Homo sapiens: one gene and its partner. The protein of the gene in region 1 interacts with the protein of each later gene in a biochemical or structural test. Each region holds a gene or a part of one and is shown on either strand. Other genes may lie near its edges.

The links. The genes of interacting proteins can lie anywhere in the genome.
Region 2: the proteins of BMP6 (region 1) and ACVR1 form a complex in vitro, tested with the Homo sapiens proteins (one study listed by BioGRID).

Annotation. Positions count from the first base shown.
Region 1 is NC_000006.12:7,875,473-7,882,461, reverse strand, and holds the end of BMP6 (bone morphogenetic protein 6 preproprotein), read right to left. Parts: intron 3,389-6,989; coding exon 3,312-3,388; intron 2,472-3,311; coding exon 2,361-2,471; intron 2,269-2,360; coding exon 2,119-2,268; 3' UTR 734-2,118; downstream 1-733. UniProt on the Homo sapiens protein: Growth factor of the TGF-beta superfamily that plays essential roles in many developmental processes including cartilage and bone formation.
Region 2 is NC_000002.12:157,760,735-157,768,593, forward strand, and holds part of ACVR1 (activin receptor type-1 precursor), read right to left. Parts: intron 5,463-7,859; coding exon 5,187-5,462; intron 344-5,186; coding exon 146-343; intron 1-145. UniProt on the Homo sapiens protein: Bone morphogenetic protein (BMP) type I receptor that is involved in a wide variety of biological processes, including bone, heart, cartilage, nervous, and reproductive system development and regulation.

The sequences.
Region 1 (6,989 bases):
TGTTCAGGGGATCCTTCTGTTTCTCACGGGGTGAAACATGTCTTTAGTTCCTCATGTTAACACGAAGCCAGAGCCCACATGAACTGTTGGATGTCTTCCTTAGAAAGGGTAGGCATGGAAAATTCCACGAGGCTCATTCTCAGTATCTCATTAACTCATTGAAAGATTCCAGTTGTATTTGTCACCTGGGGTGACAAGACCAGACAGGCTTTCCCAGGCCTGGGTATCCAGGGAGGCTCTGCAGCCCTGCTGAAGGGCCCTAACTAGAGTTCTAGAGTTTCTGATTCTGTTTCTCAGTAGTCCTTTTAGAGGCTTGCTATACTTGGTCTGCTTCAAGGAGGTCGACCTTCTAATGTATGAAGAATGGGATGCATTTGATCTCAAGACCAAAGACAGATGTCAGTGGGCTGCTCTGGCCCTGGTGTGCACGGCTGTGGCAGCTGTTGATGCCAGTGTCCTCTAACTCATGCTGTCCTTGTGATTAAACACCTCTATCTCCCTTGGGAATAAGCACATACAGGCTTAAGCTCTAAGATAGATAGGTGTTTGTCCTTTTACCATCGAGCTACTTCCCATAATAACCACTTTGCATCCAACACTCTTCACCCACCTCCCATACGCAAGGGGATGTGGATACTTGGCCCAAAGTAACTGGTGGTAGGAATCTTAGAAACAAGACCACTTATACTGTCTGTCTGAGGCAGAAGATAACAGCAGCATCTCGACCAGCCTCTGCCTTAAAGGAAATCTTTATTAATCACGTATGGTTCACAGATAATTCTTTTTTTAAAAAAACCCAACCTCCTAGAGAAGCACAACTGTCAAGAGTCTTGTACACACAACTTCAGCTTTGCATCACGAGTCTTGTATTCCAAGAAAATCAAAGTGGTACAATTTGTTTGTTTACACTATGATACTTTCTAAATAAACTCTTTTTTTTTAAAAGTCTGGTCTTTCCTTCAATGTTACAGCAAAACAGATATAAAATAGACAATAAATTATAGTTTATATTTACAAAAAAAGCTGTAAGTGCAAACAGTTGTAGATTATAAATGTATTATTTAATCAGTTTAGTATGAAATTGCCTTCCCAGTACATGATTGTGAAAAAGACATTTAGAAAATATTCTAAAATTTAATCTGAGCCTCACTTTCTACAAGGGAAATCATGATTTCCGTTCATAAACAGCATGCTCATCCCCCTAACACCATTCTTATAAGCTGGGCACCCTCATTTTATTTTCTTCGTTGGTTCTAACCCTGTGGCGTGGTATGCTGTATAGTAAAAAGGCAGAGAACCACTTTACTGAAAAGGTACTAGAGCCGGCAGTCCAGAAGTTAATGTGCTGGTCAAAGAACCGTTCTGGTAAAGAAGAGGTGAGCATTGCCTTCACGTGTTACACGGTTACACACCCCTTGTAGCCTCACCTCAGTGTAATCAGTCTACTTTTGGTACTAGCAAAGAGTACAGCAAATGGAGGATTGAGGTGTAGAAATGGTATGTTTTGGCTGAAATAAGTGTATTTTCACACCAACAAAACTCCAGCACGAACATACAACAGCAATGACTGAGACAAGGGCGCCCCGTGGAGCCCTGGCTGTGGCCTGGGCTGTGCGTCCTGTGGACTTCTGGGAATGAACTGAACAGAGGCGTTCCCCCCACTTCCCCGATTTCTGTTCTCTGTAAAATCTACCTTTGATAGACAGTACTGAACCAGCTGATCCTTTAGCCAAGAATACATTTAACTCCTTTGAGATTATTTTCCCTATTTACTAACAAACACCCCAAATAGCTTGATCTACAGCTAAAACTAATTTTGGTGGGTTTTTGGGGGAGGAGGGTAGGAAGAGCTTCACGGTTATGTTTCTGCAGTTACCAGACCTTATGCTACAGACATCCAAACTCAGCTTGCTACAGACCAACAACTACTCACGTCATTTACCAAGTGAGCAAATTATTAATGAGGTCCTTTAAAATCTTCCTGGGTAATAAGGCACTGGCATGAGATAGTTTCAAAGTCTCATCGTCCCACCTCCAACTGTGCTTCCGTGTTTTTTTAAGGCAGATGTAATCTAGGAATCCAAGGCAGAATGTGTGTCCCCAGCATCTGGTTTCGAGTTAGTGGCATCCACAAGCTCTTACAACCATATTCCTGTATTTTTTCAGAATGACATTGGAGTTGTCATCAAAGTAAAGAACCGAGATGGCATTTAGCTTAGTTGGCGCACAGCACGGTTTGGGGACATACTCGGGGTTCATAAGGTGAACCTGTTCCAAAACAGAAGGGGAGAAGGTACCTTAGAAATGACACCTGGTCTTGGCTTACTCCCACTTACAAAACAAAGTCTCCGAGAGCTCACCAAGGTCTGCACAATCGCGTGGTTGGTTGCATTCATGTGTGCGTTGAGTGGGAAGGAGCATTCTCCATCACAGTAATTGGCAGCATAGCCCTTGGGTGCAATGATCCAGTCCTTAATTTCATGCAAAGGAAGCAACAAAAGATGAGCATGCACTTCTCACACTATTTGTGCTTTTCAGGAATGCTGTGAAAAGGTATTTTTCACATTGCACAGGCAAGGATACAGACGCAGGAAGGCTTAGGAATTTGTCCAAGTTCACATTCAAGTGGCAATGCTGGGAAGTGAACCTGGTCCATCTGACCCCAGAACCCTCGCTCCTTGCAGAGGCCCACAGGGCCTCAGCTGCTACCTGGAAGCACGTAGGTTGCCAGCAATATGTGCTTGGACCCAAGCAAGCCTCTCCAGGAGCCCACGGTGCTCCTGCGGAAGTAGTGCCACCTGCATATGGAAGCTACCTTTTATCGCTCACCACCTGTGATTAAAGTTGCTGCCTTTCTTACAAACTAGTGATGGTTCTCAGGTACGAGGCAAACGTGTGCTCTTCTGCATCGTTTGGTGAGCTGGTTTGCAGCCATTGGAGATGTTAACCATTAGGTAATTTTTTTCCAACCCTGTCTCAATTAAAATTTGTTTAAATGCCCAAATAAATGTATGTCCTATGGGCTTTGAAAGGATGAGGTGAGAATATTGGGAAATGTGGCTATTGATTTTTGAGGGATCACAGAGCTCAGGCACCCTAGGAAGGTGTTGGAGCGCCTGGTGCCCCACAGACTAAGCTTCCTCTGCCTTACTCCAGGAGCCTGAGCATTTGGGAGGGCTCCTCAGGACTTCCACAGAAGGAAGCAGCTCAGCCTTCAATCAAGCTCTGGGTGTTTGGTAATGGCTGCCACCATTCAGATGAGAGTAAACTGCTGAGAAAGGACCTTTATCCCCCGTGTCCAGAGAACTCACCTGCCATCCCAGGTCTTGGAAACTCACATACAGCTCATGCTTCCTGCAGGCTGTTTTCAATTCACTGCTGTTGTAATCTGTTGGAGGAGATCAAAAGATGCACCCATCAAAAGATGCACCCATCAACTCATTAATTCCTTCATAGAGAGTTTACCACATGCCAGGCTCTGTGCTAGGCTCAGGATAGCCTCCTAGATACAAGTATGGTCACCCAACAGCTACATCAGGTTCCTGACTGTTGGCTTGAATGTCTTACGGAATCCGTTTTGTCTACCCTGGGGTCAGTACTGGGAGCAGGGTGACTTGAATGGACACCCTTAAGCAACAGAGGTGTGTTGTGAGCCCTGCTGCATGCAAGGCCTATGGAGGCGTGGGCCGACTTGCCCAGTACACCCCAGAGGCGCCAGACCGGGAAGGCATCACATTCACATGATCAGACAACGCTACTAGGCAGGATTTGCTGCAGTCCAAACAGGGAGCATTTTGAAACTGCACAGGGGCTTTCAAGACAGCTGCCGGGCCAGAAGAGTATCCTGAAGGAAGAGTAATGGTGGAGTGGGGCCAAACCAGGAGGCCCAGGAACGGGGGAGAGGGAGACACCACGCAGGGGCAATGCTCTCTCTGGCTGTACTCCCACCTCACTGCCAGGGTTGAGCTCTTGTGTGCTGATGCAATAACACTAAGCCAGGGGTTCCTCAGGAGACTCTGCTGAAGTGCATGTACCCACCCTGTGCAGCACAGGGGCCACTAGCCTGGCTTAACTGAATCACCAGCAAGAGCACTGGGGGTGCCCCAATTCACTGAGGCCCACTGGAGCGACTCTTACGTGACATGCCTTCTGCCTGGCACCACGGCCAATAGACGGTAAGTCAGACATGGCTTTCCTCCCTCCAAGAACTCAGTGAATGAAGGGGTGGTGTAAAACAGACACACAAATAACTCCAATACAAACCAGAACATGGATGCTACGGGCAAAGGCCATAGGCAAATATCACACAGGCAAGGGCCATAGGCAAATGTCCCTTCAGAGAAGGGACAGTTCAGAGTGGGAGTGAGAGGAAGAGAGAGGAGTTCTGCTGGAATGGATTTAAGGATGTGTCAAGCAGGGTCGGATGAGATAAAGCTGGAGAAATGAATGGCCTAGGCTGCCAACCACAATGCTTCGGACTTCCCACCAGAGGCACAAAGTGAGCCTTTGCAGGGTTCTGAGCTGCAGAGCAGCATTTCCCGCTGTGATTCGAAAGGATTAATCCATCTGGAGTTGTGTTGGAGAGTTCGAGAAACGACGGAGAGAGAAAAGGCAAGGAGAAGGCTTTAGAGAAAGGTCATCTAATGTGGGATGTCAGTGGGTGTAAGAGCCTAGGTCATTTGCAGGCTATCCCTTCCCTTTTCAACTACATAAGCCAGTAAGTCACCTAATTGTTGAAAGCCTGTTTGAACTTGATTTTCTAACTTCTAACTCCCAGTCTTCCTGGCTCTGAAGCAGGAGAGAGCGTGCAGATTTCATTAATTTTTTTTTTTTTCTTTTGAGACAGAGTCTTGCTCTGTTACCCAGACTGAAGTGCAATGGCACGAGCTCGGCTCACTGCAACCTCTGCCTCCTGGGTTCAAGCGATTCTCCTGCCTCAGTCTCCCGAGTAGCTGGGACTACAGGCGCGAGCCACCATGCCCAGCTAATTTTTTGTATTTTTAGTAGAGATGGGGTTTCAACACATTGGCCAGGCTGGTCTCGAACTACTGACCTTAAGTGATCTGCCCATCTCAGCCTCCCAGAGTGCTGAGATTACAGGTGTGAGCCACCATGCCCCACCAGATTTCATGATTTTTTAAGGAAAAGAGACAGTGACTCAGGCCAGTGGCCTATACTGGGAGAAGAGATGGGGCAACTTTTTTAGGTGGTTTATAATTCTAAATTTATTTATCCTCTCCACCTGCCTATGTTACCCAACAGAACCACCCTGCCTTTAACTTTAAGGACCCCAGAGAAGCCCTGGAGGGAAATTTTCACAATGCAGGACAAGGACTCTCTCAGTAAAAACAATCAACCAACTATCACCATAAGACAGAAACTTCCTACTGAAAAGAACCCCTGAACAAAAATGAATCAGCCACACAAAGTCTCTCAAGAGGATGGCTGGAATGCAAGGGAAGACCCAGAGGACCCCAGAGACTGTGGATAAGAGTCATCTGAACTAAGCTCTAAAGGAAGAATACCAAAACAAAACAAAACAATAACAAAACTAAAAACAAAAACTAGAGGAAAAAAAAGGAAGAATACCTAAAATAATGGAAGGAAGAAAAGAAGGACTAGAAACCTTAAAACAAAATTATGGGGAAAAAACATGAAAAAAGAACAGGTAGATGTAAAAAGAGTCAAATAGAACTTTATAAAAACCATAACCATTGAAAATAACAATGAAATCAGATTAGATATAACTAAAGATCAGATTAAACAGGTTAAACATTAGTTGTCTAATTAACAGATTAAACAGATTACTTAACAGATTAGTTATACATTAAACAGATAATCATCAAATTACACATAACTGAAGACAGAATTAAAGAATTCAACAGTATATTTGAAATCTCTTCAAATATAGCACAGAATCAAATGGCCAAAATACATGACTGTCTCTTTGTAAAGAGACATGGAAGAGAGAATGAAAAGTCCAACAAATTTCTAATAGGAATTTCGGAAGGCAGTAATAGGGAGTAGTAGTATTTGAAGACATAATGACTGGGAATTTTCTACAACTAAAGAAAGGCAAACATCTTTAAGTTGAAAAGGCCCAAAGAGTTCCAAGAGGATCAGATAAATTCTTATCTAGCCACATGTAGTGAAATTATATCAAACACATAAATTCTTAAAAGTAATCCAGAGATAAAAAGAAAATTACTAAGAAACACAAAATGGATAGCAAACTTAACAAAAATACACATTAAAAAATTAAATAATATGAAAATGATGCCATCAAACCTAGAATGCCATACCCAGCTGTAGTGGATATTTACTGCTTTTGCTACCCAGCTTTTGGCAACACTTCGCATGTGGGGGAATGCCTAGATAGGTGGGACTCAGAGCCCCATTTCCCACGACAGATAGCTCCCCTCTTTGTCCCCTAGCATCTGAAGTACGGACTCATGACTTCATCAAAGCCAATCAAATGTCTCCACCCTGCAGTGTATAACCTGAGGGAGTGACTCAAAGGTGACATCAAGAATGGGTAGTACGGCAGCCAGTGTCTAGGGTGATGACCACATTGGAGGGATCCAAAGCACATTGTTCCATGACTAGATCTGAGCCTTGATTTCCTGAATTAAGTCTCCAGCCTTTTTGTTGATTGGGTAAGTTCCCTGGTACGCTTTTCTCTCTCATTACAGTCTGCTTCTACTGCATGCAATCTAGAGCACTGTGATAGTTAATTTTGTGTCAACTTGATTGGACTATGGAATGCCCAAGTAGCTGATAAAACTTTTTTTTCTGCAATGGGGTTTTGCTCTGTCACGCAAGCTGGAGCACAGTGGCACAATCATGGCTCACTGCAGACTTGACCTCCTGGGCTCAAGCAATCCTCCCACTCAGCCTCCCAAGCAGCTGGGACTACAAGAACGGGCCACCACAAGCTAACTTTTAATGCAGAGATGGGGACTTGCTATGTTGCCGAGGCTGGTCTTGAA
Region 2 (7,859 bases), on another chromosome or scaffold:
CCATAAATCAAATATGAATGCCTATAACTCGACACGTACGATTCAAAGAACAATGTGAATTTCAATAGTCCCTTCAGCCCTTTTAAAGGTAGCTGGATCAAGAGAACTTGGATTAAGACAATATTATATTAGATTAGATACCTACCATTGCTCACCATCCGCCTGGCCACTTCCCACAAAACAAGTCCAAAGGCCCAAATATCGACCCTTTTATAAGAATCGAAACAATCCACCTGGATGGTTTCATCTAGAACTTCGGGGGCCATGTAGCGCTTGGTGCCCACACGGGGATTGTTCCCCACATCAAGCTGATTGGTGCTCTGGGAATGCATGACTGCCAGGCCTGAAAGGAAGAAGATAACAATGTAATCAACCCACTTCCTTTCTCATAAGAGGCTGCTGAAGGATTTTAAACCAACCCCAATCAAAAGTGCCCTCTTGTGGATCCAGGGTCACTGTTGCAATACACTCAGAATGATCCCTAGAATGCCCTTTGTGATTATTTCCGGGGTGAGAGCAGAAAAGGGACTAAATGTCAGAAACATTCTAAGGCTATCAGGTTAATATATGAACCTCAAAGAGACAAAAAGTTTTGGGTAAATTGTAGACCAATGCACTAAACCAATGTGGCCTGTGTTTGAGGTCCACAGGAAAACAGGCTCACATGTTAAATGTGAGCCTCTAAGTGGCTTAACAAGAAGCAAATTAAGCTCTCAAGCTCCACCACTGCTCTCACTAGTCTCCAAACACAAATTTCCAACAGTGTGAGATAGAGCATTTAAAGTAATTTATCACTACATAAAGGGCAGATTGCTATAAGCACTGCTTTATTCCTAAAGGAAGAGCTGCTTATCTGAGCAGTAATGCTGACCAAACCCACAGGCCTTTTCTCTAGAATCATGGAAACAGACAGCATTTAACTGGACCTCAATTGAAAGCACAACTCTCAGGTTAAATGGCTTTCAAATGCTTTCTTAAACCATGACTCATTCCAGAATTCCTCAGTCAATTAGGGAGACAGGCTTTCTTCACTGGCCAGTGGGGAGACACATACATGCATGCTTTATTTGTGGATGATTTTATGTTACTGATGCATATGCAGACTGACTGAAAATGATTCCTATAACATTTGTTGTAATGAAAAGTGCCAAATTGGAGCAAGCAGTCCCTGTAAACCACTGCAATGCAAATATCCCTTGTTGATCTCTCAAGCCATCTACAGAGAATGCTTCACCTTCCACTCCACGGCTTTGAATGTGGGGGATGACAATTTCATATAACATCAGGGAGCTAGCACACCTTATCTCATCCTTAATAATTAGCAAAGATACTGGCAACTGCATTACACTAAAACAGACAGGTTCCTCTTTCACCTATTTTTATAATCAACCCCAAGATTCTATGGACACTGTGAACATTTCCCAAATCCTATGCAATAGTCCCCCCACTTATCCTTCAGTTACCCGCAGTCAACTACAGTCCAAAAATAGGTAAGTACAGTACAATTAAGTATTTTGAGAGAGATACCATATTCACATAAATTTTATTATAGCATACTGCTATCATTGTTCCATTTTAGTGTTACTAATGTTCATCTTTTACTGTAGCTAATCTATAAATTAAACTATAATAGGTATGTAATAGGAAAAAACATAGTATATATAGAATCTGGTACTATCCTGAGTTTCAGGAATCCACTGGGAGTATTGGAAGGTATTTCTCAGGGAAAAGAGGGGACTACTGTATGCCCCTCCACCATTTGCAGAACCAAACAGTCAAAATATCAGAATATTTAAAAGGTGCAGGTTAAATAGAACATGGAGATATTCTGAAGATGGGAGAAGCTTCAAAGAACTTGTGGACATATTTTAAAGCCACCACTGCTAGGATCTCCAGGTGAGGCATAATTCCCCATCCCTTGAGTGTATGCTGGACTATTGAATAGACTATGGCATAAGTGACAGTGGGTATCTTCACAGTTAGGATATAACAGATGTTATAAAATTATAAAAGGCTTCCTGTTTGTCCCTCTCAGCTCACCATGCACCATGTTATAAAGACACTCAAGCAACCCTGTGGAGAGGTCCCCCTGCAAGGAGCTGAGACCTGCCGCCAATCATGGCTTTAAGTGTGTCCTCACAGAGTTGGAAACTCCAGCTCTGGTTGAGCGTTCAGATGATTGCAACCTCCACGAGACCCTGAGCCAGAACCACACCGCTAAGTCATTCCAAGATTCCTGACTCTCAAGAGACTGTGTGAGATAACAAATCTGTGTTGTTTTAAGATGCTAAATTTTACAGGTGATTTGTTCTTAGTAATAAGTAATTTTTACACTAAAGATGACAAAACAACCGGATGCAATTTGTAAACTTTGGCTGAGTTCCTCTTTGAAAAAACTGAAAACATCTGAAAATGAATATAAAATGATACTAGAGAATTATCAATAATCTGTAGATATGAAAAACTGATTATGAAGAAGATGCATTTTTAAGTATTTTCAAGGGATGAATTTTGAAGTATTGAGGGGTAAAGTGTTGTGATGCCTGTAACACTTTATTTTCAAATGGATTGGCAAAAATATACACATGGTCACAGATTGATAAAGCAAACATCACAAAGTTTTAACAATTATTGAATCTAGGTGTTCGGGATTTAAGTGATCATTATAACATTTGAATTTTTTAATAATAAAAAGAAAAACAGACGAGGCACAGTGGCTCACATCTGTAATCTCAACATTTTGGGAGGCCGAGATGGGATTGTCACTTGAGCTCAGGTGTTCAAGATCAGCCTGAGCAACATAGTGAGACCTCATTTCTACTAAGAACAAAAAAAAGTTAGCCAGGTGTGGTGGTACACACCTGTAGTCCCAGCTGTTTTGGAACGCTGAGGCAGGAAGATTGCTTAAGCCCAGTAGATCGAGGCTGCAGTGACCTATGATCAGCCTGGGCAACAGAATAAGATCCTCTCTCAATCAATTAATCAATATAATACTGATCTTTTTGCAGGATTAATCATAGAACACTATTTCTAATACATGATCCTTAATTGCTAGGTATATACTGGTAAGTTATATACAAATTATGGTCTTATAAGAGTTGTTTCCTGCACTGCATTGTTTTACCATATCCTGAATAATAACGCCTTAACAGATTTTTATACAAACCCATATATCTAATTGGAAGGTTACAAGCCAAAAGAAATGTAGTTGAAGAATTAATTAGCTGGACTTACTGCAAAGTTCCCCTCAACTCCTTCCCTACCAAGTCCCATAAACCAAAACCAAGAGCCACCTCAATTTGTCCACCCTCCCCAGACCACTGGATTATAACAGAAGCTACAACTTGAATCCTTATTGTTTACCAGACATTTATAATACTTCTGGGCCTTACCAGAATCCGGTGAGGTGGGCTTATTTTTTAGTTACATGAGTAATATATGATCACACTATATATATATTTTTTTTTAGACGAAGTCTCGCTCTGTCGCCCAGGCTGGAGTGCAATAGCGCGACCTCGGCTCACTGCAACCTCCGCCTCCTGGGTTCAAGCAATTCTGCTGCCTCAGCCTCCCCAGTAGCTGAGATTCCAGACGCACGCTACCACGCCCGGCTATTATTATTATTTTTCTTTTTTTTTTTTTTTTGTATTTTTAGTAGAGATGGGGTTTCATCACGTTCGCCAGGCTCATCTTGAACTCCTGACCTCAAGTGATCCTTCCGCCTCGGCCTCCCAAAGTGCTGGGATTACAAGCGTGAGCCACCGCGCCCGGCCACGATCACACTGTTATGCAAGTTTCTAACAACGCAGAAGTACAGGGCACAGCGTCAAGCCCTGGAGTTCCTCTTGGCTAACTCCCAACCCCATCCGCCTTCGCCCTCACTGTCCCTGTCTCACTGAGTGAAAGCAGTGTCAGCACTTGGGCCAGGTAAATAGATAAATAGACTTGCACAAAAATACAGGGTAATTGAGAAAGCCAGAATTTAAACCCAAATCGCCCTGGCTCTAAGAGCCATGGAATAAGCCATAAAAGTCCTCTACACCACAACTAAAAATGCCTGCAAAAAACTTTAGGGCCATGCTCTTTCAATGCTTATCCTAAAATCTTTCGTCTCCTACTTGGGAAACATTGTAATTTCTCAATGTAAAAGCAAAGACTTTAAAGGGATTCAAAGGAAATAAATTTTCCTAACATGTCAAATCCCTTATGTTTAAAAACAAACAAAAATAAACTTTGTTATTTACATAACTAAAGCTATTTTTGTCTAAACCTTTATCAGGCTAACAATAATTGCAATAATATAAATATCATATAAACCATGTTTAATCAAGTAGAGGGCCCTGAATTCTCATTAGCACAATTATTTAGCCAATATTCTAGGAATCCAGGAAGAACATGGTTTTATATAAAATGCCACTATAAATGAAAATACTCTTATTTATAATGCAACTAAAGCTACACTGAGTACTACTCTAACACCATAAGAATGAGCTATCCTAACAGGGAAAAGAGTGAATCAGTTCGGGGATTATTTTCCTATTTCTTAACTTGATTCTTTTGCCTTGGTTACAGAATGATTTTAGAGACCACTTTTAAGATAAACTAATTCTATAGAGTATTTATTGTGCACCTACTTTATGTGAAGGTTAGTGAAACCAAAATGCAACAGTACTGGTTACTTCTGAGGTGGGGTGTGGCAGGGACTGACTGAATGAGCCTGAGGTAACTGTCAAGAGTAATGGGAAACTCTGTATCTCGACAGGGATTTGGGTTTTACAACATTTGTCAAAACTCTTAAGATTTGTATATCTCACAGTATATAAATTTTACCTGAAAAAAAGAAAAAGCAAATAATGCATTCTTGTCAATGATATACTAGTGTACATGCTGAAATCATCAGAAGAAAGAATTCCTTTGTCTGCAATTTACTTTCAACTCTATCAAAGGTTGATATGGACTGATGGATGGGGAGATGAATAGATGAATAAATACATAATAATGCTTAAGGATAGTAAAATGTTAATGTGAGAATCTATGTGGTGGGTATAAAGGTGTTCATTGTAAATGTTCAACTTTTCTGCATGTTTGAAATTTTGCATAACATGTTGTGGGGGAGAGATGCAACTCACCTAACCATTGAAACAAAAATAAAACTGGTGAGGAAAAAAATATTTTTAGAAATTTACCCAAATCTGCTATGCAACACTGTCCATTCTTCTTAACCAGAATATTTTTGCTCTTTAAATCTCGATGGGCAATGGCTGGTTTCCCTTGGGTCCCAAATATCTCTATGTGCAAATGTGCAAGACCACTAGCTATGGACAGCACTATTCGAAGGCAGCTAACTGTATCCAGAGTAGTAAGCTGAAGATAGTCGTACAACGATCCCATTTCATGATAATGTGTAATTAACCACAGCTGGGTACTGGAGTGTCTTGATGTCATGTCTGAAGCAATGAAACCTGGAGAGAGCAAGAAAAAAATTAATATACATGAGGATTCCACATTATAACTTAAAGTATTTAGAAATAGCGACCTACACAGTAAATGTCATCTGTAACAAAAAGTAATTAAACTGACCAATTGCCCTAAGAGGAGGTTTACAGAAGCATCAACAGAGAAAAATAATAGCATTTATTCCTTAAAAGGGCACTGCTAATAGGAAAATTTCATATTCATTTCATTATAAGTAATACTTTAAAAGATATTTTACATTCCTTAAGTTTCAGATAGCAATAATATCTTTGTGCTCACCCATAATGATAGTGCCAAGCCCTTCAGCATGTTGATATTTTAGGAACAGACCATTCATCAACCATCCTAAAAGAACATCAAATCTAAAACCTGAGTACTGTATTCTAGTCCTGACTCTGCCTGTGATTTACTTGTCTAATACTGGGCAACTCAGTTAGGCTCCTTAGCCTATATCTGCTCAGATGTAAAATAAAGGGGGCAAGTTTACATTAAATGATTGACTGATTCACGAAATAAAAAAAGAAACCAACCAAATATATGAGTATTTATGATGCTATCTGTCAGTCACACACAGAAAAACCAAGATGATAGTGTTTGCTGGCTAAAGAAGACAGATGTAAAAACGAAAACACTACAATAAAATACGAAAAGTACTATAATATATATCTTCAAAGGGCAACATGAGCCCAGAGCAGGAAATTATAGTAATTCAGACTAGGTGTTACAATAGGCTTCCATTAGGAAGTGGCAACTCAACTGGTCTTGAAGTAAAGTGAGTGACTGACAAATGTGGATGAAGAGGTTGGAGAAGATTTTTCTTTTTCTTTTTCTTTTTTTTTGAGACGAAGTTTCCCTCTTGTTGCCCAGGCTGGAGTGCAATGGCGCGATCTCGGTTCACTGCAACCACCGCCTCCTGGGTTCAAGTGATTCTCCTGCCTCAGCCTCCCGAGTAGCTGGGATTACAGGGGCCCACCATCACGCCGGGCTAATTTTTTATATTTTAAGTAGAGATGAGGTTTCCCCACGTTGGCCACGCTGGTCTCAAACTCCTGACCTTCAGGTGATCCACCTGCCTTGGCCTCCCAAAGTGCTGGGATTACAAGCGTGAGACATCGCGATCAGCCCGGAAGAGATTTTTCTAGACATCTGGAGGGAACTTTTGAGCATGCAGAAGACTGTCTGGAAGTTAGGGGCACTTCCTATCTTATGAAATAAATTGTGACGTGTGCTTGCCTTTTCTGCTACAGAGGTGCCTTTCTAGGATTATTCTCACATATATGAACCACGCTGGTAGACAGTGAAGTTTGGGACTTAAAAAGAGGTGAGAAAAAAAATTTTTTAAGACGGATATGGCTTGAGGAAGAATTAAATGACTTATGAAAATGTAAGAGAAAATACATTAAAATGCTTTATACTTGCATAGTACTTTATATAAAATTTATGTCACTTTCACATATATTTTCTCATGAGATTTTTCCCAACAAGCTGGTAAGAAAGACATCATTATGCTCATTTTACAGATAATAAAGTTGGTGCTGGGAGATGCCAAGGATCACACAGCTATTTAAGTTGCTATCAACTCTGAATTTAGTGCTAGCTGTCCTGATACCTTGCATAGGAAGGCTCTGTGAGCCAAGAAAGGTCCCCTATTTGATCATCATCATCATCGGCAACCACAACAGAGGCAGCTAATAATTATTGAGTACTACATGCCTGGAACTTTATATGCAATCCTCCAAAAACCACATGAAGTAAGTAGATCGCATAATTGATATTAGGTTCCTGTAGGTCTGATTCTAGAACCCAGACTCTTACTGACTATGCCATACTGTCCCCAAACAAACTGATTTCTACTCAGAGAAAAAATAATTTCACATTTTCACCTATGGGACATATGCAAAGCAAACTGAATAATATTTTAGCACCTTCACCCTCTACTTCTTTCTCTCTCTTCCTCTAAGCCTATTCCCATGGCCAGCCCTGAGTCTCCCACTCCTTCCCTGCTCCCCAGTCTGCTTTTCCCCTCGATGCTGCTTCTCTTGGAGCCCTTAGCTGGCCACAATATGCATCAAAATGTGTTCTTGGACATTAGTTATTCTTAATAAAGAAAATGTTTCTGCTTTAACAGTTTGAACCAAATAATACTAATCTTTAATGATTTTCTTAAAAAATACCCCAAACTCTAACAGCACCACTCAAAAGAAATTAAATTACTGTTATATATCTGTGTAGCCTCTACTGATTTCCTCTCCCAAGAAAAAGGAGCTTCTGATTAAATAAATAAATAATAAACGAATACATTTTTATTATCTCACCTTCACTAAGCCCCTTAGGTCTTAGGGAAGAAGTTTATCTGTCCCATTAATTATGCTCTAGACCATCAG